7 linked regions of the Homo sapiens genome follow. The protein of the gene in region 6 purifies or fractionates together with the protein of the main gene of each other region. This does not show direct contact. Each region holds a gene or a part of one and is shown on either strand. Other genes may lie near its edges.

Region 1 (4,190 bases), on a different chromosome or scaffold from region 6:
CCAGTGATCACTCTTAACATCACAGAAAGTGAGACAACCAGATATGATGTGCCTCTTGGCCTGATACAATAGAAGTATACAGCACCACCTAGGAAGTATTCCTGCCAGAAAATAAGTCAAATCTTCTGATCCATAAATGTTCAGGAAACTTGGGATACAGGAACATAATTGAAGAATGAGGATTATTGTGGGTAATTCTATAGGACAAATCAGCTGGATTTCTCAACAAACAAATAGCAGGAAAACAAAACAAAAACAGGTAAAGAAATTCACATATTAAAAGACTTAAGATACACATCAACTAAATGCAATGTGTAGGCACTGTTTGGATCCTATTCAAACACATCAACTGTTTTTTTGTTTTTTTTTTTTTAAAGTGCCAAACAGGGCATTTAAATACTGATTTCTATTTGATTATATTAAGGATATTGTTAAATGTTTTCCAGTATGTCTTGTGCCATGGTTTTGTGCCATAGTTAAAACAAAGTCTTATCTTTAGAGACACTTATGAAAGTATGAAAGCATGAAATGATATAATGTCTGGGATTCCCTTTAAAAAGAGATAGTTGGCCGGGCACGGTGGCTCACGCCTGTAATCCCAGCACTTTGGGAGGCCGAGGCGGGTGGATCATGAGGTCAGGAGATCGAGACCATCCTGGCTAACAAGGTGAAACCCCGTCTCTACTAAAAAAATACAAAAAATTAGCCGGGCGCGGTGGCGGGCGCCTGTAGTCCCAGCTACTGGGGAGGCTGAGGCAGGAGAATGGCGTGAACCCGGGAAGCGGAGCTTGCAGTGAGCCGAGATTGTGCCACTGCAGTCCGCAGTCCGGCCTGGGCGACAGAGCGAGACTCCGTCTCAAAAAAAAAAAAAAAAAAAAATTAGCCGGGCATGGTGGCAGGCACCTGTAGTCCCAGCTACTCAGGAGGCTGAGGCAGGAGAATGGCGTGAACCTGGGAGGTGCAGCTTGCAGTGAGCCGAGATGGAGCCACTGCACTCCAGCCTGGGCGACAGAGCGAGACTCCGTCTCGAAAAAAAAATTAATAAATAAAAATAAAAAATAAAAAAGACATAGTGAGTGGGGGTGTAGATGAAGGAAAACTGGCTGTGGCTGTCAGCTGTAGAAGGTGGAGCATCTACTCTTTCTACTTTGGAACATCTTGAAATTTTCCATAATAAAAAATATTAAATGTTTTTAAATTCCTAAAGTACTATGATGAAATCCCAAATAAAAACTAACCATTTCAGTGCGAAAAGCCATCTCCCTTTCCAATGTTGAGAGGTGAGAAAAATGACGGTCATTTTCAAAGAGGTGTGTTATATGGCTCCTGGAAAAACAAAACAAAGCAATAGTGTTAAAACTTACACTCTAAGTATTATTTTTTAAAGTAAGCTAAAAGCAAAAATAAAAGTATCAGTTAACTTGCAGATAATTTTGTAATAACACTCAAATACAATAGTATCTATATTTTTTTCACTCAGTATGTATTGCATTTATACTAAAATTTCCCTCTCTAAAAAATCAAATTAGATTTTAAAATTAAAATGAACCAGAATATTTTAAGTGAAGTACAATAAAAGTATAGATTAAACTGTAAATGTCATTGGGTTACCATTTTAGAAACATCTAATGAAATTCATATTTCTATCTAGAAGATTAAATAAATTAATCTCTCTCTCACCATGAACATATTAATGTTGAGTGGAGTCTCAAATATAGCCTCTTTAATAATGAATCTCTTTTTTATTAAACAATTATATTATTCTGACCCTGATTTATCAATTAAACTAGTTTTTCAGACTATTGTGTTACATGTAATATATATTCATACTGATCATGCTGAAATTATTCCTTTAAATGTATGGGAAATAGCTTTAGCAAGTTATAAACGTCTGCATAAAATACCATAGGAGAAAAAAACAATCTTACCAGTGCAACACTGCTGCAAAAACAGCTGTAAGAAAAAAGAAATTTAAATTAGAATTTTAGCATAAACATGTTCATCTTACAGAAAAGCCATTTCAAAGATAAAGCATGTCAAATATTGAAATGTGTAAAAAAGAATACTGGGTCTTCAAAAAAGTCCCAGGGCTACGTTTAAAATTGTGATTGACTAGCTCATAAGGGAATTAAGCATACAGCCACCATTTTCACTCACTCACTCATTCAACAAAATATATGAAGGCCTAATATCCGCTAATAGACAGAAACCATTAGATGGAAACTATTGCTAATAGAACTGAGAGAGGAATGGAATCAACAGGTAAGGATAACTTAGAATAAAGAAATATGGTGGCTGAGGGGTACAGGATTGGGGGTGGAAGAAAAAAGGGAACTACCACTTCTGATATACTGCTGCAATGCCTGAAATTTTATGACAAATATTAACCCGTGTCTTTAAACAAATTTAAAATGAAATGAGTAAAGGAGAAGAAAAGGTAAGAGAGAGAAAACAAGCTAGTAATAAAATCAGTCTCATATGAAAATCAATACCTTGCTATCTGTCCAAGCAGAAAGAACATACTAAGATGAACCTGGAAGACACCATTCAATTTTCTTATCTCACAAGATACAGCTGATGGCAGGCTTCTGATTAAATAACTCTTAACTAAGGAATCAACCTATGAAAATACTCCTAGAAAGGAAACCCAGGCCAGATACAGTGGCACATGCCTGTAGTATCCATTACTGGGGAAGCAGAGGCAGCATCATCTCGAGCCCAGGAATTCAAGGCTGCAGCAGTGTGCTATGACTATGACTGTTAACAGCCACTGCTCTCTAGCCTGGGCAACATACTGAGACTCTGTTTCTCAAAAAAACAAAAGAAAGAGAAAAAGAAGAAGTAGGAGGAAGAAGAAGGAAAAAGAAAGAAGAAGAAGGAAGAAGAGAAGGAGAAGGAAGAAGAAAGAAGGAAGAAGAGGAGGAGAAGGAAGAGGAAAGAAGGAAGAAGAGAGGAGGAAGGAAGAATAAGGAGGAAGAGAAGGAAAGAAAAATGAAAACCAAATAGATCAGATCTTATTGTTTTATTCTTAAAGTCAGTTATATTTTTTCATTTAAAAATCCATTTTGCCTTGGAAATACGAATGGTTACTTCTAGATAATTGAAGTTACAAATATCTAACTTAGTTTGTCATTTGACTTTTTTTAATAAGATATATTGATCTTTTGAAATTTTAAATTTTTTTCTTATTAACAAATCTACCATTTGCTTCCTTTTAGTTTCTGTCTTTAAAAACTTTATCTGCCAGGCTCATGACTATAATCCCAGCTACTCGGCTGGAGGAAGTAGGGGGATCAGCTGAGGACAGGAGTTTAAATCTAGGCTGGGTAACACAGCAAGATCAGGTCTTTACAAAGCACGAGCCTATTGTCCCAGCTACTCAGGAAGGCTGAGCTGGGAGGATCGCTTGAGTCCAAGAGGTTGAGGTTGTAGTCAGCTATGATCACACCACTGTACTCTAGCCTGGATGACACAACAAGACCCTGTCTCTAAAGAAAAAAAATAATAATAATCCTAACATAATAAAATTTGGTCTTTATTTTCACAATGATTCAACTATCATTTTCTGAATAAATTATTTTTCTCCCATTGAATGTAAATGCAACTTTTATCATACTGAAGACTTGCCATGCTTCTACTTTGGTAATCACTCTGAGGTTATAATTGGATTTTCACTTATAAAATTAATTTGGGAAGAATTTACACGTTTACAATATAGAGCCTTCATATCCATAAATGTGGTGTGGGTATATACATATGTTGTATATATAGGTATGTGTATATATACATAACATATATCTTCAATTGTTCAAACTGTTTTTCGATAGTCCTTGAGAAAAATTCTACAGGTATTGTTAACATATGCATTTCTTATGAAGTTTCTCCTGGGAGTTAAACATTTTTTTCCTGCTAATATTCATAAAATGTTTTTTATTATACATTATTGGATATTGTTAAGGCATTTATTTTTGAAGAGTATTTATTTTGCAATGTATTTATTTTTGGTTCATTTACTAAACTGTTAATTCATATAGTTTTTTAAACTTATCTTCAGTTCTCCATTTTATTGCATTTTATTTTATTTTTGAGGAGTCTTGCTCTGTCACCCAGGCTGGAGTGCAGTGGCATGATCTTGGCTCACTGCAACCTCCGCCTCCTGGTTTCAAGCGATTCTCCTGTCTCAGCCTCCC
Region 2 (4,190 bases), on a different chromosome or scaffold from region 6:
TCCTCCAGGTATGCCTGGGTCCGCTCCTCCACCAGTTCCTCCAGATTGTTCGCGTACTGCTCCATGCGGGACAGCAGGTTGTCCAGGATGTTGCTGCTGTTCTCCCTGGGGGCAGAGGGTGGCGGTGGGGGTGGTAAGAGAGGAGCAGCACAGCCTACCGTGAGCGCCCGCCCCTAGGCACTTCCCCCTCCAGACTGCAGTGAGGTCTCTAGAGACGCTCAGGGTTGAGGGCATAGCAGGATACCGGGGAGCAGGGGAAAACAGAAGGAAGAAAGTTCAATTCTTTTCTGAGACCCCAAGGTCAAGTATGAAGCTTCAGACATATGGACATTTTGTTCATCTTTGTTGAACCCAGTGAGTTAGAAGGAGGTAAAGGAGGTGGAGAATGACAAGGGTCAATTGCGGACAAAGTGATGTCCACAGAAGGGTGTGTCTGGAGGAACTGGGCCTGGTGGGCACGCTGGGGAAGGGAAATCAAGGGGTGGGGCAGGAGCTCCCGTGGAGGGCCAAGAGCCTACAGGGCAGGAGGCGGGAGGCCCATCTATCCTACACACTGCTGAGAAGTCTAGAGGCCAGCAAGGCGAGTGGGCAGGAAGGGTGTGGGGTGTCGATGGTGGAGGGAAGGGGCATGAATGGCAGGGGACTGTGGGGACAGCTGAGTCATGCTGTACTTGCGAAGAGGGTCATGAGGCTGTGCTGAGCTGGAGCTGACTATGTACAGGGAGGAGGTGAGTGGTCTCCCTCTGCCACTGCTGGGATAAGCCAGAGCCAGAAGCATTAGGTAAATGGTGGCTGTGGAGGAAGGGCCTGGGGGATCCATGACAAACACCAGGGACCTGTTAAATTTGCGCAACGTCAGGCGGATCTGCTGGAATGGTGGCCTCTCCTGTGGGTCCTCAGCCCAGCACCGCTGCATGAGCAGCCCCAACTCCTCCAGGTGACTCTGCAGGGCCAGGGAGGGCCGGAAGGGGGGCTGCTCACCCCGAGTCACCCGCTCGATGATCTCTGTATTGGGGGGGTAGAGGAGCTGAGGGGTGGGGCTGGCCAAGGGCCTAGTGAGAGACTGGGGCAACCAGCTGAGATGGCAGGGGAAGTCCAAGACCAAGGCATGGGGGCGGGGGACTGGTCACTGGCAGCAATGGGTCAAAGGGTGGTGACTGAACCCCATTACAGAAGGAAGGTGTGGTGGTGCTGCCAGGGGACCCTCTCCCTGGGGCTGGGGTTCGTTGAGACTGTGGCTGGGTTTAAGGAAGGTGTGCTCCTCTCACCTTTGGGGCTCAGGTCCAAACCTTCCACGTGGAAGACCCCACTCCTCAGGGCAATCTCCTGAAGGATGATCCCAAAGCTGTATACGTCACCAGCCTGGGAGCCCCGCACAGGGGGTGAAGCCATTCGCAGGAGCTCAGGGGCCGTCCACAGCTTTTCTGTGGGTCAGAGGTCGGTAGTCACCGAGTGAGGGAGCCCAAAGCTAAGGGGTGAGGGGGAAACAAGGGTGTGGCCGAAACTGATCTGGATGCATCACAGAGTGTTAGAGCTAGAGGAGGCCTTAGAAACCACTTCGTCTGGCCTTCCCTTTTTCATGGGTGAATGAATTGAGGCTGGAGTCAGGACAAGCATGCCCAAGCCCATCAGAGGCCTTGCATCAGTCTCCCTACTGGGTGGTGCTGGGGGCAGGTGTTAGGTTCAAGAGTCAAGGCTCACTGGCATAAACGGTGTGTCCTTGCTCTGGGTCCAGGTCCCTGAAGCTCTCCAGCCCATAGTCGGTGATCTTGAGCACAAAGCGCCCATCTACCACGCAGTTGGATGACTTGAGGTTCCCATGGGAACAGATAGCCCCATTGTGTAGAAACAGCATGCCCTGGAAATGTGAGTGGGCAGAGGTATTGGCCAGGAGTGGGACCTACACCCGTGGCCAGGAGAAGCATGCCTGGCCCCTGCTCTACACATCCAATAGGTGCTTAGGGGCATACCTTGACGATGTCATTGGTGAGTGAGTACCGGAACATCCAGTCCAGGGTGATGCTCTCATTCTCCAGAATGTCCTGCTGGGGCAATAAGAGTCAGACCAATCCCCTGCAGATCCCCCTGGGAGTTGGAGGAGGGTGCAGGGTCCTACTGATGTGAACTGGTAGAACAGGACAAAACTTTGGATTGACTCTAGTGCCACTGCCCTTCCCCAACTCCCATTTTTACAGATGGGGCCAGAAAGGTCAGAAAGAGGGCGAGGCATGCCTGGGGTCTTATGGCCAGTCAGGGGCAGAGCCAGGGCTAGAACCCAGGTTTCTTGACACCCCTTGTCCCCCTCACCTGCAGGCTCCCACGGGGACAGTACTCTGTGAGGATGCAGATATTGGGGGGGTCGGTGCAGGCTCCCACAAACCTGGTCAGGTGTTCATTCTGCACATCCCGCATCTGCAAGTGGGACCAGCATCAGGAGCTTGACAGAGACCTCGCTCCTCACCAAGCTGCTCACTAGCTTCAGGGACCCTCACTCTTCTTAACTCCTTATTCACTTTCTGCAACCATCACTAAGATCTTCCCTGGTGATTCCCACCCATGTCCTTTAGCCCACCCTCCCCAGAATCTGCTCCTACTCCCTCTGCATCCTAAGCCCTCTCTCCCCCAGGGACATCACATATGGCCCCTCAAGATTCCTCCAGGTTATCTCCAGTGGTCTCTTCTCCTAGCTTAGGATACCCCCACTCCCACCCACAAGATGAAGGTCCATCCCAGGGCTCCAGTCCCTGCCCCTTTCTTGGGGTACCCTGAGGTCCCTCCATAACTAGTTCTGTTGGCCAGTCTCCCTTGCGTCCCCGAGGGCCCCTTCTCCATGCCACTGCCTCACTCCCCACATTACATGCTTCAGTTCAAACAGGACTTTTCGTGTCAGCTCAATGCGTTTACGGTTCACACGTTTCACAGCCACGAGGTTGCCCTGGGCATGGAATGGAGACTGTCACTGTGAAGAGCATGGTCCCATGTCCTGGGAATTCCAGCTGCTCCCGACAGCCCATCCCTGCCCTCAGGACCCTCACTTGTTCCCAATAGCCCACCCCCAGGGCCCCCATCTGCTGCTCCCCACCAGCTTACTCCTTCCCTCAGAACCCCCCACCAGTCCTCCATCAGAGTACACTCCTGCCCCAGTCCCAAGGCCCAGTGATCTTTCCCCAGGCCCACCTTATAATATGCTGTCTTGGCAAAGACTTGGAACTGGCCCTCTGTGGTTAGCAGGGAGCCGTAATTGGAGCCTCTCTGAAAGGAGGGAGAGCAGGAGGAATGGTCAGCCGGTGGGCCCAGTCTGCATCCTGATTGCTTGTGCTCTGGTCTTTATTTCCCTGCCTTATCCTGCCTTATCTTTGTGTCACCCTTCCTTTTTGTTGTTGGGTTTTTTTTTGAGATGTAGTATCATTGTGTCATCCAGGCTGGAGTGCAGTGGTGCTATCCTAGGTCACTGCCGCCTCAGACTCCTGGGCTCAGATGATCCTTTCACCTCAGCCTCCAGAGTAGCTGGGACTACAGGTATGCGCCACCATGCCCTGCTAATCTTTGTATTCTTTGTAGAGACGATGTCTTGCTCTGTTGCCCAGGCTGGTCTTGAACTCCCAGGCACAAGCAATCCTCCTGCCTCGGTCTCCCAAAGTGCTGGGATTGCAGATGTGAGCCACTGTGCCTGGCCCACCCTGCTTTATGTTCCACATCATAAAATTTCCTCCTCATTTACTTTTTTTTTTTTTAAAGTGTTTTCACAGGTACTATCTCCTCTGACCTTTAAAAGAGCCCTGTGAGGGAGGCTCTGCTGCTGTAATCATCATCTGAGACAGTCTCGGAGAGGGACTATGAGTCGCTCAAGGTCACACAGCAAGTGAAAGCAGAGCTGGGACTAGAATCCTGCTCCCTTACCTATCCCTCAGGCACTGCCCCTTGTACCCACCTCTCCTTTATTGCCCCCCAACACAAACACCAGCGTTCTTACCCCGCTCAGGGTCAGCCGGCTGCCTGCACTCCGCAGGTGCCTCTCAAGGCTACTGGGCTCAACGTCCTCCCAGCGCACCCGCCACAGCTCCGAGGCCAGTTCCTTCTCCAGCTGCATCTTCCTGGGATACGAAGGCTGCATCTGAGCCTGTGGCTGAGCCGCTGACCCAGGGCAGGGTGCTCAGCAGCCCCTCCTCAGAGCCGTGGGACCACACCAT
Region 3 (4,807 bases), on a different chromosome or scaffold from region 6:
TTTATTGGTCATCATGAATTGCTAAATTTAAAAAGAAAAATACTGTAAGCTATGCCTGCAAATCATGTTTTTAAGCATCAAGACTGTGTGGTTTTTATGTCTACTCAAAATATTTTAATCTTCCTCCATTTGTTTTTTTAGATCATTAGGTGAAAACTCTAAGGCAATTACATGTTTCATGTATATGCTTAATGAGAAGTCCAAACACCTTATAGTTTTCATGTGGAAAGCACAAGAAGTACTTAAACAGAAATAAATAGAAAAATATCAGCTGACATTTTAAAAAAATGCAAAGACTAATTAATTAGAAAAAATAATCTTAACAGAAATTCAACTACAATTGTCTGTGTTCCTTTAACACTTGCAATATTGGCTTCATCTATTTTAAAAGAACATTAAACAAAAACTAATTGCTCTCAAGAGATCCATATGCCTATTCTTAGCAAAAAATCTCAAATCCGAATAGGTAGGTCTCAGAGCTGAGTAAAACATCACATAAAGCCAGTTGGGATTAAAGAAACCTTTTGAAGAAGAAATATAAAACCATGATAGTAGTAACAACTAAACTCATTCGCCTTGTAATCTGCCTACATGCACAAGGGCCTGGCATACTCTAGGTGCTCAAAATGTGGCTGACAGGTATTAAATGGCCACCTGCCTCTCTGATTACACCACTCTCTTTATCACCTCCATGTTCCCCCACAAGTCTTACCCTAGTTTCGGTGGTCCTAGATTAAACTTTCCTATACCATTTTCTTCCCCCATTTTTTTCCCATTCTATCTTTCCTTTGCTGCTTTCCCCCCAATACTTATGTCTATTACCACTAAAGCAGAATCTTAAAATGTGTTTTCTCATTAAAATGTATCTTATATTCAAAAGTGGCTTTTACATTTTTTGTCTAGGATCTTCGTAATTTTAACATTGAGATCCATATACATGGATATATAAACAAAAGTTTCACAAATATTTACCCTACTGTATATAATGGATTTTGACATTTTCTATTTAATTTTTTAAAAATAGCTGGTGTTTACACTAAACTGACTTCTCAACTCACTAATGGGTCTACCTGAAGTCTAAAAACACTGCTCTATGTAATTTAATTTCATTATCTTTTGAAAAAAAAATATAAAAAATTTGAGGGAAAAATCCAAGTACATTGTAAAATTCCAGGCTGTTTTATTTTATGTCTTTTTAACCCACATGTAGGTAATTTCAGAAATATGAAATACAACTTTGATTTATCATTAAATCCAGACTTACCGTACTGTGACTCCAATAAACTGAAATGATTAGCAGTAATCAAGTGAAGGATGAATCCAGCTTACTGTGCTCAGTTTCTCAACAAATATTATGACTGGGCACCACAGCTTGAAAGTTAGTTTTAGAACATTCTCCTTAAAATCTATTTGTTCAGGTTGTTTATTCTGCAATAAATCATTGAGCTATGCGTTTCATTTTGTACACACTTATGTATATTATACAATTTTAAAAGTTTAAGAAAGTCTATTGGTATACATTTTTTAAGAGTAAACTGTCCAACCATCAGGCAAAAAAAAAAAAAAATCACTAGATCTTTGGGTGAAAAATTGTTGAGGAGCAATATTCACACAGTGTCACAGTATCATGCCAAAGAACACTTTTTAATTAGAAAGGAAAAAAGGTATCTTTACAATGGAGAAACTGGTGGACACCACCTTAATCAAATAATCAAACAAATTCTGCAATGATGGGATAAATCAATGTAAAATGCTTCCTGATATATAATATAGATATACATATTAGATGTACCTATATATGCTGCAAAACATGTCTGGACTCTTGAAAACTATCAGTATCTTAAAAGACAAAAAAGGGGAGGAGAGGGCAGAACTGTTCTAGATTAAAAGGCAGTAAACAAGATATGGCCAGTAAATTGAATGCATGCTTTCTGAGATAGGGTCTCGCTCTGTCACCCCAGGCTGGAGCGCAAAAGCACAACCCACCTCAGCCTCCTGAGTAGCTGGGACTATGCTGGGACTATAGGAGCGCACCTCCACGACCGGCTAATTTATGTTTGTTTGTTTGTTTGTTTGTTTTGAGAGAAGGTTTTGCTCTATCACCCAGGCTGGAGTGCAGTGGCGCGATCTTGGCTCACGGCAGCTTCAACTTCTCGGGCGCAAGCGATCCACCCGCCTTGGCCTCCCAAAGTGCTGAGATTACAGGCGTGAGCCACCACGCCCCGCCTAATTTCTTTGATTTCTAGTAGAGATGAGGTCTCGCTATGTTTCCAAGGCTGGTCTCTAACTCCTGAACTCAAGCGATCCTCCCGCCTTGGACTCCCAAAGTTCTGGGCTTACAGGAGTGAGCCACTGCGCCAGCCCATCGATGCATGCTTTTTGACAGAATCCCAGATGAAGAGAAAGCAGCTTTAAAGGACAATTATGGAAATTTGCACATGGATTTTATATTAGGTAATATTTCCCAAATGTGGTAACTGCATTGTGGTCACACAGAATAATACTTAACTACTTATGGATTAAAAAGTAGAGGACAGCAATGCTCCGGGCACAAATAACTTGTTAGCTCCAGATCAGCATCTTAAAAAAATTACAAAAGCATAATGATATTTCTCTTCATAAAGAACAAAGTGAAGAAGAAAAAGACCACCGCTCTCCTCCCTTTGCATAATTTCTATATACGATTGTATAAACTAGGCAGAAACGTTCTTTGCCGGCACTCGTGTGCTCCACGTGGTGTGTGTCATGGATCATGTGTGTCATGGCACAATCTCATGCGGCATCTTTAACCTTGGGGCCTACGGTAAACAAAAGACCGAGGTGGGAGAAGAGGAAAGAAGGCCCAATTTCCATGGCATACAGGTGGGGGCCACCAGCTCCAGGTCAGCCTATTGTCGCTTCAGAAACAAACTTGTAGTTCCCTCCATATCTTCGCTCAGGACCTCCCCTCTCCCCGCTCCAACTTCCCCACCCCAACTCATTAATCCCATTCCTGAATGCACTGAGCTTCTGGAACGCCTCGGGACTCGCAACGCTTCCTGCTTCTTCCTAACTCTTGCAAATCAAGCCAGACTACCCTGCCCTCGCACTTACCACAGCGCCCGCCCCTTGGGGGCCGTTCGGGGTCGTATCTGCCATGGGGGCTCACACTAGCGTCTGCGACGCCGCAACCGCGAAGAGAGAAGAAAGGGGAGAGAAAACGTCAGCGCTGGGGCCAGGACCCGGGTACCGGCTTCCCTGCCTCGCGCCACACACAGGCCGGATGCACCCTGCCGGAACTCTGAGCCTCCACCAGGGAAGGGTCTCGCTCGCCTGGTGCAGCCGACTGGATCCAGGGCACCCGCAGCAGCCGGGAGGTACCTGTCCCGCACCGCCGAGATCAAAGCGGTGTTTCCAGAAAGACGGGAGCGAAGGTGGAGCTTCGGGGTGAAGCCCTAAAGAGCCAACCTACGCCGCCGGCTCCAGGTTATTGCCGAACCCGGAAGTGCTCCTTTCATTTCCGTGGGGAAGAGGCGGTGACAAAGAGGGGGAAACGGGAGCGGTGCCCAGAGGCATGACGGGAAGTGTGGTTTTTTTCTCCTAATTTGAGCCCCACCTGTCCTTCCGCCGATTGGCCCAGTGAGCTAAGAAATCAGGATGGGGGAGCAACTTTTGCATTAAATACAGCTCACAAATGATCTTTCCTGCCCATTCTCAAACCATGAAATTTCCGCACTTCCTGATATAGAGGCCTCAGAAACATCTTTGATTCCTTTCTCCAGGGGCTTACTAAGCCCGTTGGTTCTACGTCTATTATTAATTCTTTCAATAAGTATTTATGAGGCCTGCTATGTGACAGGCTCCATACTTGGCACGGCGGATAAAAAGAGGAATATGACACAGATTGCAAAAGAGAAACAAGTAAACGGAAATCAGAGCATAGTGATTGTGTAATATGTGTAGAGGCTGATTTAATCACAGGGAGCACAGAGGACGGTACCTAAATCAGAAGGGATCTGGGGAGGTTTCCTGGAAAAGGTAAGTCCGGGCCTTGATCTTGAACGACAAAAAGTTGGCTGAAAGTGTTACTGGTGTAGGGTGTCCAAGTTCTTGGCGTTTTGAACATAGAATTGGACAAAACGCACAAAGCAAGGAAAGAATAAAGCAACAAAAGCAGAGATTTGTTGAAAATGAAAGTACACTCCAGAGTGTGGGAGAGTGAGACAGCAGCTCAAGGGCCCTGGATACAGAGTCTTCTCGGGTCCAAATACCCCCTAGAGGTTTCCCATTGGCCACTTGGAGTTCACTTCATGTAAATGAAGTGGTGGCCCGCAATCAGTCTGAATGGTTGCGCAAAGCAACCAATCAGAGGCTGAAGAAGTTACAAAGTTACACTTCTATGCAAACGTCTGATTGGTTACAAAAAGCAACCAATCAGAGGTACTTTCAATTTCCCAAATCTGCGCAGAACAGGTTGGGGCTTGCAAAGGGAGTAGTATCTGGCCCTTTATTCACTTAAGCGTGGACAGTAAGGATTTTCCTTCAATTTAGTTCTAGGAAGTCAGCGAGAAAGGGCATTAGGTTCCCTACCGCCATACCATATTCTTCTGCCTTAAAACGGGAAGGGAACTCCATACAGAGTAACAGAAAGTGCAAGAAGTAACAGGACAGCGAGAGGACTAGTTGAGTGTGACCAGAATGATGGTACCAGTCAGGGGATTGTGAAAGATTTGCGCTAGAGAGGCAGGCAGGGGTGTACTGAGGAAAGGATCTGAACTTGACCCTGAAATCCAGAGAACCATGGAACAATTTTAATCAGAAGTGTGAC
Region 4 (4,190 bases), on a different chromosome or scaffold from region 6:
TGCAATTTAAATAAAAATTGAAAAAAAGGCTGCATGCATCCACTAGAAGGAGAGGAGAGGAAGGGAGCACTGAGTCAAGTAACAGAGAATGGGATAAAATAAAGAAGAAACGAAAGGAAAATCAGGGAGGACACAGGGTACGAAAAGGAGAAAATAAGGGAAGGGAGGAAGGAGAAAATGGTAGAGGACATAAGGTGATAGAAAAAGGGAAAGTAAATTTATTATTTCTACTTTTCTTGGACAATATAGAGACTCAAAATAGTTAATGCAACTTGCTCCAAAAGCGAGAGTGCAAGAGGTGGTGGGTCTATCAATTAACCTTATTGTCAAAGGGACAAGGATGAGCAAGAAAAAATTAGGCTCAGCTGCAACGAATGCTAAGCTGCTCTGCACATCTTTTAAAAGGTCTAGGAAATAGGCACAGCCATGGGAAAGTTGCTATTCCCTCAAGAACTTTTTAAAAGCAAGATATGTTTATATAGGCTCCCATAAATTCTTAGGAGTTCTGCCAAAATAATGGACCCAGACTCAGCTTTTTGGAATTGGGAGTTTCTGAAGCAGTCCTTTCCTCCTTTGGGTTAAAGGAGGGCTGCAACAAGCCAGAGGCATTTCCAAGTGTACAGAGGAAGGTGATGTTCTCGCATGCGCAGATAAAAAAGGACAGGTCAGTCTAAATCATTCTTATAGAGGAATGAGAAGTTAAGAGAAGGACAAGGAAGCACTGTGAGAAAACATCAGGGCTGAGAGAGACATTTGGGAAATTAAAGTTTAAAAATCCACTGCCATTTCATCCAGCAGAGTGCAACACATTCACAAGTGCAAGGAATACTGGGTAGTTTGGTTTAAAACAAAAACAAAAACACCTCCCATACAAGGGCCAATTTTTCACCCCATCCCCAACCTCTAATTTTTCAAAAAGGTTGTTTACTGCTATACAATCCCAGAAACACATCAACCAGGCTCAGTATTTAAAAGTCCCAACCCACTTAGACAATAAAAAAATAGAAATCACTCCCCATGATTTTCTGTATAGGCCTCAATGTGGACACTGAGGAACGAAGGGAAATACTGGACAAGCTGAGAAGCCTCAGGCCAAACTAAACCCTTCATAGTTGTCAAGGGCCTGGGTCAGCCGGGCACTCAGAATCTCTTTGCTGCTGTACTTGGGGAGGTCAAGAAGGTTGTAGCAAGTGTGGGCCACCGGCAAGTACTCCTCCCCGCTGGCTGTGGACTGGATGACAATCTGCAGACTGGCCATGCCGTAGATGGGAATCCGATCGCTGCCTGTCAGGAACACTGGGGAGAACGAGAAATGGCATTAGCAGCTAAGCAAACGGAAAATGGATCTCAGAGATCCTTCTGGCAACAGGAGAGGAAGGCATGACACCCTGTGGCTTGCATGAGAAGTACAATTACATTTATGTGCCAATATGCATCCTGTGGAATGAAAATTAGATGCCGTTAAGAAAAAAAAAAGGCCTCAATCAAATGTACACCCTCACAAATGTTAGATTTCACAAAATCAAAGAGGGAAGGAATTGCTGTCATAGGAAAAGAGGAGCTGATCTTAAGGGGAAAACAGAAGAAGACTGAAGTCTCTGACCTCAGGGTCTCCTCTCACCTCAAGTGCCTGATGCCTGTACCACCTTGTCTACGGAATTCCATTTAGGATCTATTTGCTCTCCTTTCCACGTCTCCATTTTTCTTAAACCCGAAGAGCTGACCCAAACATTATGTTAGACATTGCACTCTTGTGACATGCACTGTGACTTGGCAAAAGAGAGAGAGGGAGACAGACAGAGAAAGACAGCTCCTTGTTTTCTAGTGCTGAACAACACTCTCATAGTTGAATTGCTGGAAATTACTATAAGAAAATCATTAGTTAAGAAGCACTTTCAAATAACCTGCCATTCCCTGAGGCTGTGATACATAAAGTTTCTTGCCAAAAATCTCCAGAGTTAACAAACATTTCTGTAAGTCTAATGAACAGAAAGTGCCATTTTCTAGGGAAATTCCAGGACCATGAGCAGGCATCTCTTGAATGTCACAGCCCTACAAGCTCACTTGGCAAACCTTAACCTGTCATTCAGCTCTTCCACTACTGCTTCTCAATAGCCAATGCAGCCAGGCAGAGGAGAAGTGGTCCCTCTTTTTAAGAATTCTTGTGTAAGATCTCCACTTCCTCTCATCCTTGCTCCCATGTGAGCAGCAGAACCTGTTAAGTCCTACATTAATACTAATATATGCTCCATCTTATAAAGCAAAATAGACTGCCTATCAAACCCTGTGCTTTGATTTTACATGACTAAAATTCCATACTATGCACTAGCTAATTTCTGACGCTGATTACACACAGACACAAACTGAGAAATATTTCAACCATTTTTAAAAGGCTGAATTTGTTCATGTAAATTAGAATTCATTCTCCTTTCCAAAGGTATTATTACCCTTCTCAAATGTCATTCAGCCAGCCACAAAGGTCTACATATTATATGATTCAATTTGCATGAAATATCCAGAATAGGCAAATCCATAGAGACAGAAAGACTGGTGGGGGAGCTGGGAAGAAATGGAGAATGACTGCTAATAGGTATGGGGTTTCTTTTTTGAGGTTATGAATGTATTCTACAATTGACTGTGTGTTAGTTTCACAACTGTGTGTATACTGAAATATACACTTTAAATGAGTATGGTATATAAATTATAGCCCAATAAAGCTGCTATAAATCACACCTTCCCAGTTCCATCTGGATACTTTGTAATATATTTTAAAGGCTAGAGAGATAAGAGAGGTTAATCCAAACAATTTGACTTCATAAATGGAATACTTGAATAACTTACATATAAAATAATTGGTATTTTTAGAATAATTTAAAAATCAGGCCAGGCGTGGTGGCTCACACCTGTAATCCCAGCATTTTGGGAGGCCAAAACAGGCGGATCACTTGAGGTCAGGAGTTCAAGACGAGGACCAGTCTGGGCAACATGGTGAAAGCCCATCTCTACTAAAAATATAAAAATCTGCCGGGCATGGTGGCAGGTGCCTGTAGTCCTAGCTACTTGGGAGGCTGAGGCATGAGAATCACTTGAATCCAGGAGGCGGAGGTTGCAGTGAGCTGAGATCACGCCACTGCACTCCAGCCTGGGCAGCAGAGTAAGACTCTGTCTCAAAAAAAAAAAAAAAGAAAGAAAGAAAAGAAAAATCAGTGAGATGCTTCTTTTCTTCCTTTCATGCAACCCCTCTTGTTAGGCAACAGATCTGGATTAACAACCTATATTGTGCCTGAGATAACATTAAGACAAAAAGCATACATATAGTGAATTACCTGGTCTTTACCATTTAAATGAGTTAAGCCTCAGCTGTGGAGCATGTCATCCTATACTGTATGTAAGACTAAAATGTAGACAAATACCATATTGAGATTACTGATACTTACAGAGAAACTTCTTCTTCTTTTCCAATGGAAACTCATGAAATGTTTCCCAAAATAGTTTTACAGTGGGATGTGTGGCCGAGTAATCTCCCTTGTAGATGGCAGTCTGTCCAAAAAAGAGAAAAAGAAAAAAATGTATCTTGGAAGAATATTATAGTGGACATTATATATCATTTGCATTTGAGGCTAAGAAATAAGTGCTGAGATACAGGACACCTCTAAATCTAACTCAACCACAGTATGCTTGGAACGAGACCAGGCTCTGGGAACACCTCCCCAGGCTGCTGCTGCTTCGCCGGAGTTAAAGGAGTTAAAGGATCTTTTGTGCTTACCTCTTCCAGTTCTTCCCAGTTGTAGTTGCTGTTCCCCACCATCATAGCCCTCAGTTCTGAAGGCTGGAAGAGCTCAAGTACTTTGCCACCACACACCTTTAGGAAGCCACTAGAGAAGGCTGTGTACCATTCATGAACTGAGATTTGGAAGACATAATTCACATAAGCATCCACAAATTCCTGCCTGCCAGAACACAAAAGAAAATACATTTAGCTCAAAGTCTTGTAAAGCTTATGAAGTTACCCTTCTACACTGAGATTGGGAGTGATAAAAAATAGAATTTCATCAAATTCTCAAATCAGGAGGCATCCTAAGGCATCATATAGGTTACCAGCTCTCCTCTCCTCCCTCTCCATCCCCAGCCCTAACATTCCACCAAGTGCCTCAGGTGATCCAAGGCAGGATAAGCCAGATAGGAAGGGC
Region 5 (4,190 bases), on a different chromosome or scaffold from region 6:
ACGTGTCCCAAAGCAAACTCCTGATCTTTGCCTCTCCACTCTCATCTTTCCACCTTGTCCCCATCTTGGTTAACGGCACCCCCGTCCTGCCAGTTGCTCAGATCAGAAGCCCAGGAGACATCCTCAACTCCACACTCACGCCCCACAACCAATCTGCCAGCAAATCCTGTCAGCTCTGTCTCCAAAATACATTCAGCATCTATCGACGGAATCCAACCACTGATCCTCCTCTATCCTCGGCCTGGCCTGGCCACCACAGTGGCTTGTCTGGGCCGCTATTTGGTCTCACTGCTCCCGCTGTGCTCACTAAGCGCTGTTCTCAGCAGGAGTGAGCCTCTCCAGGCATATGTCACAACAGGGGACTCCTCTGCTCCCTTGTTCTGGCGGCCTCCTGTGTTAAGAGTGGAAGCTGGCACCCTGCAGTGGCGTGTAGGAGGCCCCACGTCTGTGCTGGACTCCTGCTACTCTTCCTGTGGCCCGTTCCCAATGCGATGCCTCCTCACTGTGCCTCCAGGGGCCAGGCCACTCCAGCCTCAGCACCTCTATCCGAAGCAGGTGTCCCCCAGATAGGAGAAGGCTCGCCCCTCACCCGCTTCCAGGCGTTACTGAAATATTATCCTGCCAGCAAGTCCTGCTCTGACCATCCCACATCAAAATGCAAACAAAACAAAACAAAGCTCCCCAGCAGCATACCCGCCTCCCTTCCTTGCCTTCCCTGTGTCTGCAGTACTTACTCTCGCATGGATGCATATTTTAATTGTTTAATTGCTTTTGCCTGTAGCTTCCCCTACCAGAACCCAAGTTTCACGAGAGCAGGGGTTTCTGTGTGCCGCATCGCTGCCATAGCCCCAGCCCTTGATCCCCACGCATGAAGCAGACAACCAATCAATACTTATGGAATGAGTGAATTTGAGCCTCACCACAGTCGTGAGTGTCCGCTAGGGCAGGGGTTGTTCTCCTCATTTCACAGATGAGGAAACAGATGCTGCCGGAGCCTGCAGTGGCCTGCACGTGGTCACACACCCGCAACCTTAGATAGTGTGACCCAGCCCAAGGCTCCTGACAAACTGTAATCCCAGCAGGGTTCCAGACCCCTCCTCTGTGACGGGGAATCCCCGATTGGCCGAGGGGAGAAAGGGAGAACAAGAGAGTGGTCGTCACCCTCAGACAGGGCTTCACCAGCTGGGGACTCCAGGAGGCCACACCTTGCCCTGGAGGACCTACTGCTGCGTTAGAGAGGGCGTCAGTCTGTGCCCACAGCCTAAAATCTATCTTTACCAAGATGAGCCAAGAGAGGGGCCAGGTCAGCCTTGGTGACTGAGACTGACGCAGTGTCCCCATCTTTGTCCCAAGAATCAGTGTGGGCCCATCTAGCCAAGGTCTCCAGCCTTCTGGAGGCCTCTGTCCCTCAGCTCTCTTGATCCTGGCCAGATCCCCATTCTGACGCTAGGACTGCTCCAAAACGCGGGGCAGGGAAAAGGAAGGATGCCCAGGGTGCCGTCTAGCACTCCTGGGGCCTGTGGGGGCCGTCCCAGTGGGGGTCAGGGAGCAGAGACTGGCTTGCTCCCCAATGTCAGGCTCCCGCTGAGACACCTGCCCCCGCCCCCCGCCCGGCACCACCGCAGCCGAGGAAACTCGTGGCCCTCCCCGGCCCCTCCCTCACCAGGGGTCGATGAGTATCTCGACCAGGGCCGTGCAGAGCAGGACGACGCAGGAGCAGCTGAAGGCAGCCCCACTCTGCTTCTCCTTCTCCACCGAGTAGCGGGTTTCCATCTCGGGGTCCATGAACCGCATGGACAAGAGGAAGGTGTTTCTCTTCTTTACTCTGCAGTGGGAACAAGCCCCATGAATCCCAAATGCCACATCTGCCTTGGCCTAGCAGGGGGGCCGTATTTGGGATGCTCAGTTTCCTGAATCCCTTGTCAGGGCCCGGGAGGAGTGGTGGGCCTGGACGCTTCCGGGTGGCGCTTACACTTGGGCGGACTCTCGCTCAAGCAGGGCCTCGTTGAGCAGCTGGTTGAGCTCGTGCTCATCTTCAGAGGCATCCACCACTCGGTCAGCCAGGTCCTGCAGGCGCAGCCTCCGGCGTGGGTTGGGGAATGAGGGGTTGTCGGCCTGTGAGCCAGGGAGGCAGCGTGAGTGGGGCAGATGGGACAGAGTGGTGGGGAAGAGCTGGGAAAGACAGAGGTGGAGGAGGAAAGGAACAAAAGAGGGCATACTCGGAGGACCAATCCCTCCAGCTCTAAAATCCCTTTCCGGGAAGTCTTCCCCATGCTCCCACGTGGCTCCATGTGGCCTGGATCTACACCCAAAGCTCCAGTCTTTCCTGGCTCCCCGGGCCCCCCACCCAGAGCTCTGCAGGGAGGGTCCGCTAATGACAGCATTGTAGGGAGCAGCCCCTGGCTCCTGAGCAGGAGACCTGTAATCGGAGACAGCTGCTGGGCTGAGGCAGTCCTGGCACTTCCTGCTGTATTGATGTGGGGGCCATATACATTGGCAGCCTGGGGACATGAATGGCTCCCAACTCTAGGGCTTCAGGGAACTGTTAAAGGAACTCACATCTGGCTCATTTGGAAAGGAAGATCTGAGGGGGAAAGTGATGGGAGAGAGAAGAATGTCCTCATCACTAGAGGGCTGACAAGGGGCGGGTAGGTGGAGCTGGGGCACCCACTACCCTTTTATTCCCAGTTCCAAAGAAAAAGCATCAACTCCAAAAACAGGAATCCTGGCTGTGATGACACAGCCATCAGTCTGAATAGTCACTGAGACGGGCTGAGAGCTGTCTGAACGGGTTCAACAGTGCATCTGGGAGCCACAGTCACGACTCCCTGGGGCCGGGCACGGTGACTCACGCCTGTCATCCCAGCACTCTGGGAGGCTGAGGTGGGTGGATCACTTGAGGTCAGGAGTTTGAGACCAGACTGGCCAACATAGTGAAACTCCATCTTTACTAAAAATACAAAAATTAGCCAGGCATGGTGGTACACGCCTGTAATCACAGCTACTTGGGAGGCTGAGGCAGGAGAATCTCTTGCACCCGGGAGGCAGAGGTTGCAGTGAGCCAAGATCGCGCCACTGCACTCCAGCCTGGGTGACAGCGTGACTCCATCTCAAAAAAAAAAAAAAAAGACTCCCTGGTCTTAAGCACAGGCACAGGTGTGCCACTGGTTGACAGTTTGACCCCAGATAATGTTTCCCCAGCCACATCTTCCCCTTCTGTAAAATCACGTGGATGGTCTGTGGCAGCAGCGGGAACCTGTTCCTGAAGCAGATCCGGGAGCAGCGTGGCCCTGGCTGAGGGTCAGGGCCCGAAAAATCAGGCTGCTAAAGCTGCATCTGTGTCCTCCTTGCTAGTGAGTGCCCTGAGTCTGGACCCCCACTTTCTATCAAGAAAACTGCAACAAGGAAAAGTTACTGAATGTTGGGGGACTCAAGAAAAACCTAATTTACCCTGAGCCCCATCTACCCTCTTGTTCTACGGCATCTGCTCTAATGGCACCAGGGCCAGCTCTCCTGTCCCCCTCACGCGGTGAGCCCGAGCAGGGCAGACATCCCATCTCTGCAGCACTGACCTCCATCAGTGAACGTGCTCCAGACGCCCTGCGGTCAGGGACCAGTTCTGGGTGCTCCCCAAGAGGCACCCTGCACTCTGGGACAGCATGCTAATTCCTCGCCTTTGGGGGCTAAGGAAATATCCCATCTTGCATGGAACTTGTGGGGCTTGAACCTAGCCAGAGGGGTGAGTCCAGGTCTGATATCTCACTTCCAAAATGGTCTCAGATCCTATATAATTTTCCATGGATGTCCTCACTGATCTCAAATCTACAGGATTCCGGGCCATCAGAGCTACAAAGGCCTCCGAGCTAAGCACCTCTTTTGACCTTACTCACCCCGGCATGTAACTGATGAGGAGACAGTGGGGTTTTGCGGGGCTGGAGGGGTGACCTGTCCATGGTTACAGTGCTAAGCAGGAGCAGGTCCTGGGTGGTGGCCAGGTCTCCCCAGCACAGGACTCCTGCTGCAGGAACGTATTGCTTCCTGGTGCCTGCCCGCATCTGGCCCTCAGTGACCCCCTGCCCTGAGCCCTGCACATACCTGGGCATCCTGCTCCTCGGGCTTCTCCGACGTGGACCCACTGCTGTGGGCACTCCCGTTGGGCTCCTTGGTCTCAATGAGGGCAGGGGAGCTGG
Region 6 (4,798 bases):
TAGTATTTTAAAACAAATCCCAGCCATGACATCATCTTACCCGTTAATTAAATGGCACTAATTAAATGGTGCTTGAAATATTACAAACATCTATGTTCGACCATACCACCTAGAGTTCTGGGCAAGAAGGTTGGGACCCACAGGTCAAGCCTAGCCCCTTAGTTTTACCATGAAGATAACTCAGGCCGTCGGAGAAAGTGGCCTGCCCAACGCAGGTGCTAGAGCGCGAACCAAGAGAAGTCGATCCTCCTGGTCTCCCCGGCTGCCTGGTGAGTGGCAGACCACAGGCTAGACTTCCCAGGCCCCGGCCCTGGAAGGGGCGGGGAACCCTCCCCCTCACTGCCAGCTGGAAGAATCCGAGCGGTCCCCGCACGCACTTCTGGAAGTGCAAGCCGGTAGCGCGGCGGGCCAGGGATACAGCCAAGTCCCGGGACGTGCCAGCTGCGGTAACTGAAGCCGGGTCCCGGGCGGGCGGGGGTACCAGGGACAGGAGTAGCCTTGGAAAGAGGAGAGGGCCTCCTCCCACGACCGTCCGGATCACCGCCTCTCCGCCGGCACCCCCGGGGCCCATGCCGCGAACAGGCCGGCGAGGCTGGCAAGGTGCCCGGGCCCGGGGCGGAAAGCAGGAAGTCGATCCCGCGGGCGCGGCCCAGGGTGCGGCGCTGCAGATGCAGCACGGGGTCGCGGGGCGGGCGCCCAGTGCACCGGAGGAGGTGAGCGCCAGGTCGCCTTCGCGGCCCGGGGACACAGGCAGGGACGCGGGAGCTGATGCGGCTGGACCGGCCGGGGAAACAGTATTTTCTGGAAGGGGTAAGAGATGCTGTCTTGAGCCTTTGGAATCTCGGATCCGGGCCGCCCAGAGGACCTCGACAGGAGCACAGGGAGGACAAACTGAAGTCCGAGAGAGGCGGCGTGGCCTCCGGCCTCGGGGAGCGCTGCCGGGGGTCTCGGGCTTGGGAGAGGGCCTGGGGGCGGTGAAAATGGGGGGAAAGGAGGGGACCACAACATTGTTATGGAAGAGTGAGCTCGGATTGGCAGAGGGACGCGGGGCTGCAACGCGAGTCTCCGGAGGTGGAGGGGTCCAGGCTGATGTAGCGCCGCCCGGGTCCTGGGTCGGGGTTCCGGGAAGTGGACCTGCGAGCCAAGCCTAGCCAAGTCGGGGGACGGAGGCTCCGGGGCGGACGGAGCTGAGGGTGGGCAGGCGAGGTTGATGGAGCCCTTCCAGGAAGCAGGGCGAGGCTCAAGCACCCAGAAAAACCTGTGGCTGCCGAGGTCCCCCGCCAGCAGCGGGCAGCGGAGCGCAGGGGCGGGGCTGGGGACTGGCGAACTCCGCCTCTCTGGGGCTGTCGCTTTAAGGGCAAGGCGGGGCGTGCGGGCCCTTTAAGGCCACGTGGGGGCGTGTCAGGAAGTGAGTCCAGGGCCCGCCTCCCGGGGAGTCGGCCTCGGATGTCCGGAGGCTCCTGGGCTGAGCCGGCGACAGAGCCCGGGAAGGCAGCGAGACGTGGGCGCCGGCCCAGCCCCCTCCCGCGTCCTTCAGCCCCAAGCCCCGAGCCCCTCTGACCCTTCCGCAGCCCTCCCTCCAGCCGCGCCCGGCCTCCGGCAGCTCCCTGTACGCCTCCCTCCCCCTGCCCGCCCCTCCCTCCCACAGCCGCCCATGACGCCCTCTCGGCACCTCTTCCCACTCTGCCACGCGTCCTTTTCCTGCACCTTCGCCCCGCGTACCTACTCCTGCCCCGCCCTGCCATTCCTCTCCCCTCCCTTCTCTCTGCGACCCCTCCCTGTTAGGCCCCAGCCTCTTCTCCCCTCACAGGTCTTCTCTGTCCTGGCCTCACCGCCTTATCCTATTCCTCTCCCTTGCCCTGTGTCTTGTCTCAGAGCCCCCTCGGGGTGGGAGTAGGTTGTGGAGCAGCACAACTGGGCTCACCCCAAAGCAGAACTTCTCAATCCATGAGGACAATGGGGAGGCCTTTAGGCCAGCCCACATGTGACAATGGAGGGCTGCGGCTTCCTTGCGGAGAGCACAAGTGAGCTCACTGCCCTGGACTCCAGGGAATCAGAGTTCTGGCCGCGGGGTGACCCAGCTCCTCTGCTACCATGAATAGGGCCCCTCTGAAGCGGTCCAGGATCCTGCACATGGCGCTGACCGGGGCCTCAGACCCCTCTGCAGAGGCAGAGGCCAACGGGGAGAAGCCCTTTCTGCTGCGGGCATTGCAGATCGCGCTGGTGGTCTCCCTCTACTGGGTCACCTCCATCTCCATGGTGTTCCTTAATAAGTACCTGCTGGACAGCCCCTCCCTGCGGCTGGACACCCCCATCTTCGTCACCTTCTACCAGTGCCTGGTGACCACGCTGCTGTGCAAAGGCCTCAGCGCTCTGGCCGCCTGCTGCCCTGGTGCCGTGGACTTCCCCAGCTTGCGCCTGGACCTCAGGGTGGCCCGCAGCGTCCTGCCCCTGTCGGTGGTCTTCATCGGCATGATCACCTTCAATAACCTCTGCCTCAAGTACGTCGGTGTGGCCTTCTACAATGTGGGCCGCTCACTCACCACCGTCTTCAACGTGCTGCTCTCCTACCTGCTGCTCAAGCAGACCACCTCCTTCTATGCCCTGCTCACCTGCGGTATCATCATCGGTGAGTGGCAGCTGGGGCCACGGGGGATAGAGTGGTCATGGGGACTGAAGCAGTGAAGAACAACTCTTCTAGGCATCCTAGGACTTCATCTGTCCCAGCTCCTTTGGTGCAGCAGTCATAGGAGAAAGAGCCTGGGGGCACAGAGAGAGCAAGTAACTTACTAAAGGTCACCCAGCAAGTTAGGAGCCCAGCCGGGGCAAGAACAATAGTAATAATAATAGTAACAACAGCAGCAAAAGCAACTGACATTTGTTGAGTGATTAAAATGTGCCAGGCACATGGATCTTAGCCATATTAACTCAGCTAATCTTCATAACAAGATGGGATTATAATCCACATTTTACAGAGGGAAAAACCAAGGCACAGAGAAGTTAACTAACTTGTCCAAGATCACCCAGCTAATAAGTGGCAGAGCTGGGATCTGAACTCAAGCAATCTGGCTTCACAGTTCACATGCCCGACCACTGTACTTTATTGTTTCTCAAGAGCTCAGGTGTCCTGATTTCCCAGCCAGTGCTCTTAGTAGAGGACAATACGTCTTTTAATAAATATACCATCACTCTCTGCCAGCTCAGGATAGCGCCTGAGACAGTAGCAAGCAATATGCTTTGAGAGGCCTCAGCTGTCTTCCTGGACTTGACCCTCAGAAAATAATAATTATTGATGGGGAAATTATGCTAATTATTTCACATATAGCATCTCCTTTGTTCTCCCAGAGATCCCCTGGGTTGTGGCATCACTACCAGCGGTCATCTCTATACAAACAAGGAAACTGAGGCTCAGAGATGTTACATTACTTGCCCACGGCCACACAGCTAGCAAGCAGCCAGGCTGGGATGCAAACCCAGATTGGCCAGACTCCCAGGCCTGTGCTTCTATCCCCTCTGCTCGTCTTGGAGGTTAGAACTGCAGTATTCAATGCAGTAGCCATTGGCCACTTATTTAAATTAGTTAAAATTAAGCAAAATGTTAAACATTCACTTCCTCATTTGCAGATGTTACAACCTGATTTTCTAGCCACATTTCAAGGGCTCAGTAGCCAAATGTGGCTGAGGGCTATGGTATGGGACAGCACAGGTTAGATGGGCCCATATTTTACTGGGCCCCATGCTGCGTTAGAGAGCCTCCAGCATCCCATTCCCTCCGAGTCTTCCCAGGGCTGCGTCATCTAGGAATGGGGTCTTCATTTGAACCTATGCTGGTTTTTCCTGGTGCTATAAAGTTTATCTTATTTGGCCTACATATCATATTCTTTGCTGATGGCTCAGGGTCCCAGGCTAGATGCACCGGTTGGTGGGGGAAGGGACCCATCCCATGCCACCTGTCCTAGAAAATGTTTCCCCTTGTTGAGCAGCTGCTGGATCTAGGGCTGCTGGGTCTAAGTCCAAGAGGGGAGAAGGGAGAAGGTCACAGTTAGAGTAGGGGAAGCTGCAAGACCCCCCCTGCCAGAACTCTCCCAGCCTGCTTCCATTTCCCTCTCCAGGGAACAGGTGTACCTCCCCTCCTCCCTGTCCTCCTCAGATGCCCCAGGGCTCTCTACTTCATTCCTGCTGACCCTGCCAGGAGTGGCCTCAGGGGTAGAGGCTCCTAGTTGGAGAATTTGCTTGCAGGAAGGTGAAGACACTAGGGTAACTGGGCCCAAATCCCAAAGGTAATCCAAGTAACCAGTGGTGAGGTTCTGAGAATGGTGCATTCACGGGCGTGCCTGACTGGGACAGGGGCCAGGGAGGTGGACGCTCTCTGCCAGCCCAGGACCTGGCTCCCTATCTGCAATGTTTCCTCTTTCTTCCTCCTTGTAGGGGAAGACGAGTCTCAGGCAACTATTCTAGGCCTCCCCTCCTAGCCCCCCATGTCACACAGTAACTTTCAAAGCTCCTTCTGGGCCAGGCACAGTGGCTCATGCCTGTAATCCCAGCACTTTGGGAGGCTGAGGCAGGTGGATCACCTGAGATCAGTAGTTCGAGACCAGCCTGGCCAACATGGTGAAACCCTGTCTCTACTAAAAATACAAAAAATTAGCCGGGCGTGGTGGCATGTGCCTGTAATCCCAGCTACTCGGGAGGCTGAGGCAGGATAATTGCTTGAACCCGGGAGGCAGAAGTTGCATTGAGCCAAGATCGCGCCACTGCATTCCAGCCTGGGCGACAGAGCAAGACACAGTCTCAAAAA
Region 7 (4,190 bases), on a different chromosome or scaffold from region 6:
GATGGGGCCAGATTGTGAAGAATCTGCATGCCCTCATCATAATCAAGAATTGAACTTACTGAGTTTTCACTCTGCTCAGTGGAGAGCAAAGCTTTCCGTAGGAATTGTGTATTTGCATCTTTACAATGGCTTTAAAAGCCTTAGAAGGCGTAAGTTCCTTGAATAACTTGTAAGTAGTAAAGCTGTCATCTGTCCTCCCAACCTTGGTTTTAGGAGAGATGTATTGTAGGTCACTCTTGCTTCAGTGTGGCAAATGGATTGCAGGTGGCAGGCCTGGAGAGAGGAGGCAAAAGTTGCTAGCCTGTCACATTGATCTGGGTGAGAGATGGTGTAGTAGAAGTTTTTAGGATTGATGCCTAGATCACAACTGTTTACTCTTTTCTGGAAACAGTGCCAATATGGTGTGACCTTGTAACCCCCTCCCAACTTTGTGTCTCTAGTTGCTTGGTTCTGGGTGTGCAACAGATCCAGCCTGGGCAGTCAGAGCCCTTTTCTGGGACTGTTGGATCTGGGAACAAAGAATAGCCTGCTTTCTCTGGTGTTAGAGACTATCTGATTTAGGCCAGGTGCGGTGGCTCACACCTGTAATCCCAACACTTTGGGAGGCAGAGGCAGGCGCATCACTTGAGCCCAGGAGTTTGAGACCAGCCTGGGCAACATGGTGAAACTTCATTTCTACAAAAAATAGAAAAATTAGCTGGGCATGGTGGTGTGCACCTGTAGTCCCAACTACTCAGGAGGCTGAGGTGGGAGGATCGCTTGAGCCCTAGAGGTCAAGGCTGCAGTGAGCCATGATCGTGCTACTGCACTCCAGTCTGAGTGACAGAGTGAGACCCTGTCTCAAAAAATAAATAAACGATCTGATTTGAGGCTGGATGGCTGTGGGAAGCCATATTTCCCTTTGTGTAGAAGTAGTTGGTCTAGAAGGAAAGTAGATTAAGCCAGTAGAGAAAGAGAATCCTCCTGGCATTTGAGGTCCAGTGGCACCCACTCTTCCTGTAGTGTGGTTATGGGAAATAAACCATTATCCTTCAAATACATTTTTCTGTTTTGCTTAAGCTAGTTTAAATTAGTCTCTTGCAACCTTAGGGGTCTTGATTAGTATAGATGGTGAAGGTCTAAACTAAGGCACTGAGTGTGGGGTTGGGTGATCTCACACTTTAGGGGGTAAACTGGATGAAAAATGGTAGCTGTGTGACTCAGAGGGAGATGGGTGCCTTGGTAGAGTAGAGATGAGGATGGTGTTCTACATGGAAGGAGCACATTGAGCATAGGCGGGAGTGTGGAGCAGCACTGGGGGAGTGTGGTGAATTTGAGTTCTTCTGCTTGGCTGGGCTGTGGGGTGAGCTGGGGCTGGTATAGAGGGAGAGCCAGATCCTGCAAACCTCACTGAGGCCTTAGGCTTGATCCTAGAAGGAGTGGGAATAAATGAAGGTAGGTGTTGGTGATGACTGCTAATACAAACCCTCACTGCTTTCTAATGATAGAAGCATCACATTCCAGAACATGTAGGAGATAAAGGTTTTAAAGAAAATAAAAATTACACTAATGCCCATCACCATTTGTTCTTTTTTTATTTCCAGTATTTAAAAATGTATACATTTAAAATAGCTGAGATGCTGTATATATAGCTCTTAATCTTTTACCTCACTTCTTCTATCATGAGCATTTTTCTGTAACACATTTTTTGAGACATTTTGATGACTGTATATTATCCTACTTTGTGAATTTTTATAATTTATATAATATCCATTTCTAAGATTTTTGTTCTTATGGATAAAATTGTTTTACTTAAAATCTTAAAATTTTGTTCATGTTTCTCATGTTTTTAGAATAATTCCTAGAAGTGCAACTATGGGATCAAATAACATCATTTTTTAAAATAATAGTTTTTCACCCCAAGAGTATAAATTCAAGTTGTTCTGAATATATACTCCCTAAAAGTAAGGTATACTGATTTATACTTTACATGTAATAACATTCACCCTTTTTAATGGACAGTTCTGAATTTTGACAAACGAATGATTGTGTAACTGCCACAACAGTCAAGATATAGAACAGCCATTAACTCGCCAAATTCTCTTGTACTCTTTTGTAGCCATCTCATTCCCCTGCCTTAGACCCTGGCAGCCCCGATCTGTTTTCTGCCCCTGCAGTTTTCCTTTTCCAGAATGCTATATAAGTAGAATCATATAGTGCTATAGTTTCTGCCCTCTGGCCCCCAGAGATAGATTTCCTTCCTGTGTCAAAACATATTCACTCCATCGCAAGGCCTCCCCAAAAGTCTCAGTTCATTTCAGCATCAACCCAAAGTCCACAGTCTCATTTAAATCTCATCATCTAAATCAGGTATGAGAGGGTCTGGGTGTAGTCCATCCAGAGGCATGATTCCTTTCCACCTGGGAAACGCAAGAATCAAGTTATCTGCTCCAACTTAGAGTTAGGGAATGGGCATGGGATATCAGTTATAGACAGTCCTGTTCAAGGGTGGAGGAAAAGGAAGGCAAAGAGGATTCACCAGTCCCAAATAATTTCATTTTCATAACAGCCAAAGTTTTCAATTTTGACGAACTCTGGTTTATCAGTTTTCTTTTTTTATGCACCATGCTTTTAGTGTTATATCAAATCTTTCTTAATCTAAGGTCACTGAAGTCATCTATATTTTCTTCTAGAAGTTTTGTACTTTCAGACATTATATTTAGGTCAATTTTGAGTTAGCACCTGTATGTGGTACAAAGTATGGATTGAGGTTTATTTATTTGCATTTGGATGTCCAGTTGAATATAATAAAATTTCTACTCTTTTAGAACTTATAGTTATGGTAGACAGACAATAAGTGAACAATATGTCATTTTTTGGATGGTGGCAAGTGGTGTGGAGAGCAGTGAAAGCAGGACAAAGGGTTGAGAGTGCAGGGTGACAGTGAAGCCTGTGTGGGGTCGGTACCCTGACATCCCACATCCGGTGAGACTTTGTAACCAGGTGACCTGACGGGGTCAGGGGGTAAGCCGTGTGCATGTCCTGTGGAAGAGAATTTTAGGCAGACAGAAAAGTAGCACAGAGGCCTGGCGAGGTGGGACGGTGCTCAGTGTGGCCATGCAGCCAGGAGGGTGAGAGGGGGTGGTAGGAGCTACAGTCACAGGTGTCACACAGGTGAGAGGCTTGCCACTGAAGAGTTATCTTGGCCAAGGTAAAAACATTTGATTTTACTTTGAGCACCCCGAGAAGCCCTTAGAGGGCTTTGAATAAAAGAGGCCATGCTCTGACTTAGTACTGCTCACATTGTGGTTCTTCCTCAGTGTTGTCAGTGTCACAGGGAGCTGGATAAAGATGCAGAGTCAGGGGCCCCACTCAGACCTGCTGAGTCAGAATCTCTGACGGTGGGGCCCAGGAATCTGCTTTAAAAGCTCTTCAGGTGATTCTGATATATGTTAAAGTTTTAAAAAAAGTAATGTAATTTTAATTGACAAATTATATATATTTAGGGGTACAATGTGATGTTTTGATACATGTATCCATTGTGGAATGATCAAATCAGGCTAATTAACATATTCATCACCTCCCATACTTAATTATTTATTTGCAGTGAGACCATTTAAAATCCACTCTTCCAGGTAAAGTGGAGGCAGGGAGGCCAGTTAGGAAGCGATGATAGTGACGCAGGTGAGTCACGGTGGCTCGTCCAGGGTGGCAGTGATGAAGTGGTGAGTAGTAGTCAGATGTGAAATGTATTTTACAGGTAGAGCCAAAAGCATTTGCTAATAGATTGAGTGTAGGGTGTAAGAGGAAGAGGTAAGTCATGAACAATTTCAATGCTTTTGGCCTTGGAAGAATGGACCTGGAGCTGCCGTTTACTGGCATGGTGACAGCAGGAGGAGCAGGGGAGCATTTTGGAGTGGTGATGAGGAGGGTTTGGGGATGGATGTGGAGTTTGGTGTTTGGATAAGTTAAGATGGAGGTGAGTGTGAACCTAAGAGACATCACGGCAGCTTTTTGACACCTGAGCTATGGAAGCCGTGGGAAGTCGTATCTTCACTTCTGCCACTGGAGGTGTCCTTGCATGAGGTTAATGTTAAGAAGGATATTGTATTTAATAGTAACTTAATTTTTTCTAATTATAAATTATGTGTATTTTGTCTAATTTAACAGGTATTCAAATAAAGTTAATTGCAGCTTTCTGTGAAAATGTC

Evidence for each region.
Region 1: the proteins of SLC35C1 (region 6) and DPY19L1 purify together in Homo sapiens (affinity purification with mass spectrometry; one large-scale study listed by BioGRID and IntAct). This does not show direct contact.
Region 2: the proteins of SLC35C1 (region 6) and NPR1 purify together in Homo sapiens (affinity purification with mass spectrometry; one large-scale study listed by BioGRID and IntAct). This does not show direct contact.
Region 3: the proteins of SLC35C1 (region 6) and TMEM33 purify together in Homo sapiens (affinity purification with mass spectrometry; one large-scale study listed by BioGRID and IntAct). This does not show direct contact.
Region 4: the proteins of SLC35C1 (region 6) and HERC3 purify together in Homo sapiens (affinity purification with mass spectrometry; one large-scale study listed by BioGRID and IntAct). This does not show direct contact.
Region 5: the proteins of SLC35C1 (region 6) and ADCY3 purify together in Homo sapiens (affinity purification with mass spectrometry; one large-scale study listed by BioGRID and IntAct). This does not show direct contact.
Region 7: the proteins of SLC35C1 (region 6) and KIDINS220 purify together in Homo sapiens (affinity purification with mass spectrometry; one large-scale study listed by BioGRID and IntAct). This does not show direct contact.

What each region holds. Positions count from the first base shown.
Region 1 is NC_000007.14:35,016,644-35,020,833, forward strand, and holds part of DPY19L1 (protein C-mannosyl-transferase DPY19L1), read right to left. Parts: intron 1,954-4,190; coding exon 1,929-1,953; intron 1,327-1,928; coding exon 1,239-1,326; intron 1-1,238. UniProt on the Homo sapiens protein: C-mannosyltransferase that mediates the C-mannosylation tryptophan residues on target proteins.
Region 2 is NC_000001.11:153,684,868-153,689,057, reverse strand, and holds part of NPR1 (atrial natriuretic peptide receptor 1 precursor), read right to left. Parts: intron 4,095-4,190; coding exon 3,974-4,094; intron 3,253-3,973; coding exon 3,178-3,252; intron 2,936-3,177; coding exon 2,858-2,935; intron 2,413-2,857; coding exon 2,308-2,412; intron 2,043-2,307; coding exon 1,971-2,042; intron 1,859-1,970; coding exon 1,702-1,858; intron 1,469-1,701; coding exon of another isoform or gene 1,446-1,468; exon of another isoform or gene 1,425-1,445; coding exon 1,269-1,424; intron 1,006-1,268; coding exon 837-1,005; intron 106-836; coding exon 1-105. UniProt on the Homo sapiens protein: Receptor for the atrial natriuretic peptide NPPA/ANP and the brain natriuretic peptide NPPB/BNP which are potent vasoactive hormones playing a key role in cardiovascular homeostasis.
Region 3 is NC_000004.12:41,933,816-41,938,622, reverse strand, and holds the start of TMEM33 (transmembrane protein 33), read right to left. Parts: upstream 3,195-4,807; 5' UTR 3,139-3,194; coding exon 3,094-3,138; intron 22-3,093; coding exon 1-21. UniProt on the Homo sapiens protein: Acts as a regulator of the tubular endoplasmic reticulum (ER) network by modulating intracellular calcium homeostasis. Mechanistically, stimulates PKD2 calcium-dependent activity. Suppresses the RTN3/4-induced formation of the ER tubules.
Region 4 is NC_000004.12:88,703,858-88,708,047, reverse strand, and holds part of HERC3 (probable E3 ubiquitin-protein ligase HERC3), read right to left. Parts: intron 3,951-4,190; coding exon 3,767-3,950; intron 3,541-3,766; coding exon 3,438-3,540; intron 1,297-3,437; coding exon 1,088-1,296; 3' UTR 1-1,087. UniProt on the Homo sapiens protein: E3 ubiquitin-protein ligase which accepts ubiquitin from an E2 ubiquitin-conjugating enzyme in the form of a thioester and then directly transfers the ubiquitin to targeted substrates.
Region 5 is NC_000002.12:24,832,822-24,837,011, forward strand, and holds part of ADCY3 (adenylate cyclase type 3), read right to left. Parts: coding exon 4,096-4,190; intron 2,173-4,095; coding exon of another isoform or gene 2,116-2,172; coding exon 1,973-2,115; intron 1,826-1,972; coding exon 1,664-1,825; intron 1,646-1,663; exon of another isoform or gene 921-1,645; intron 1-920.
Region 6 is NC_000011.10:45,803,708-45,808,505, forward strand, and holds the start of SLC35C1 (GDP-fucose transporter 1), read left to right. Parts: upstream 1-1,441; 5' UTR 1,442-2,094; coding exon 2,095-2,629; intron 2,630-4,428; coding exon of another isoform or gene 4,429-4,472; exon of another isoform or gene 4,473-4,798. UniProt on the Homo sapiens protein: Antiporter specific for GDP-l-fucose and depending on the concomitant reverse transport of GMP. Involved in GDP-fucose import from the cytoplasm into the Golgi lumen.
Region 7 is NC_000002.12:8,827,089-8,831,278, reverse strand, and holds part of KIDINS220 (kinase D-interacting substrate of 220 kDa), read left to right. Parts: intron 1-4,149; 5' UTR 4,150-4,185; coding exon 4,186-4,190. UniProt on the Homo sapiens protein: Promotes a prolonged MAP-kinase signaling by neurotrophins through activation of a Rap1-dependent mechanism. Provides a docking site for the CRKL-C3G complex, resulting in Rap1-dependent sustained ERK activation.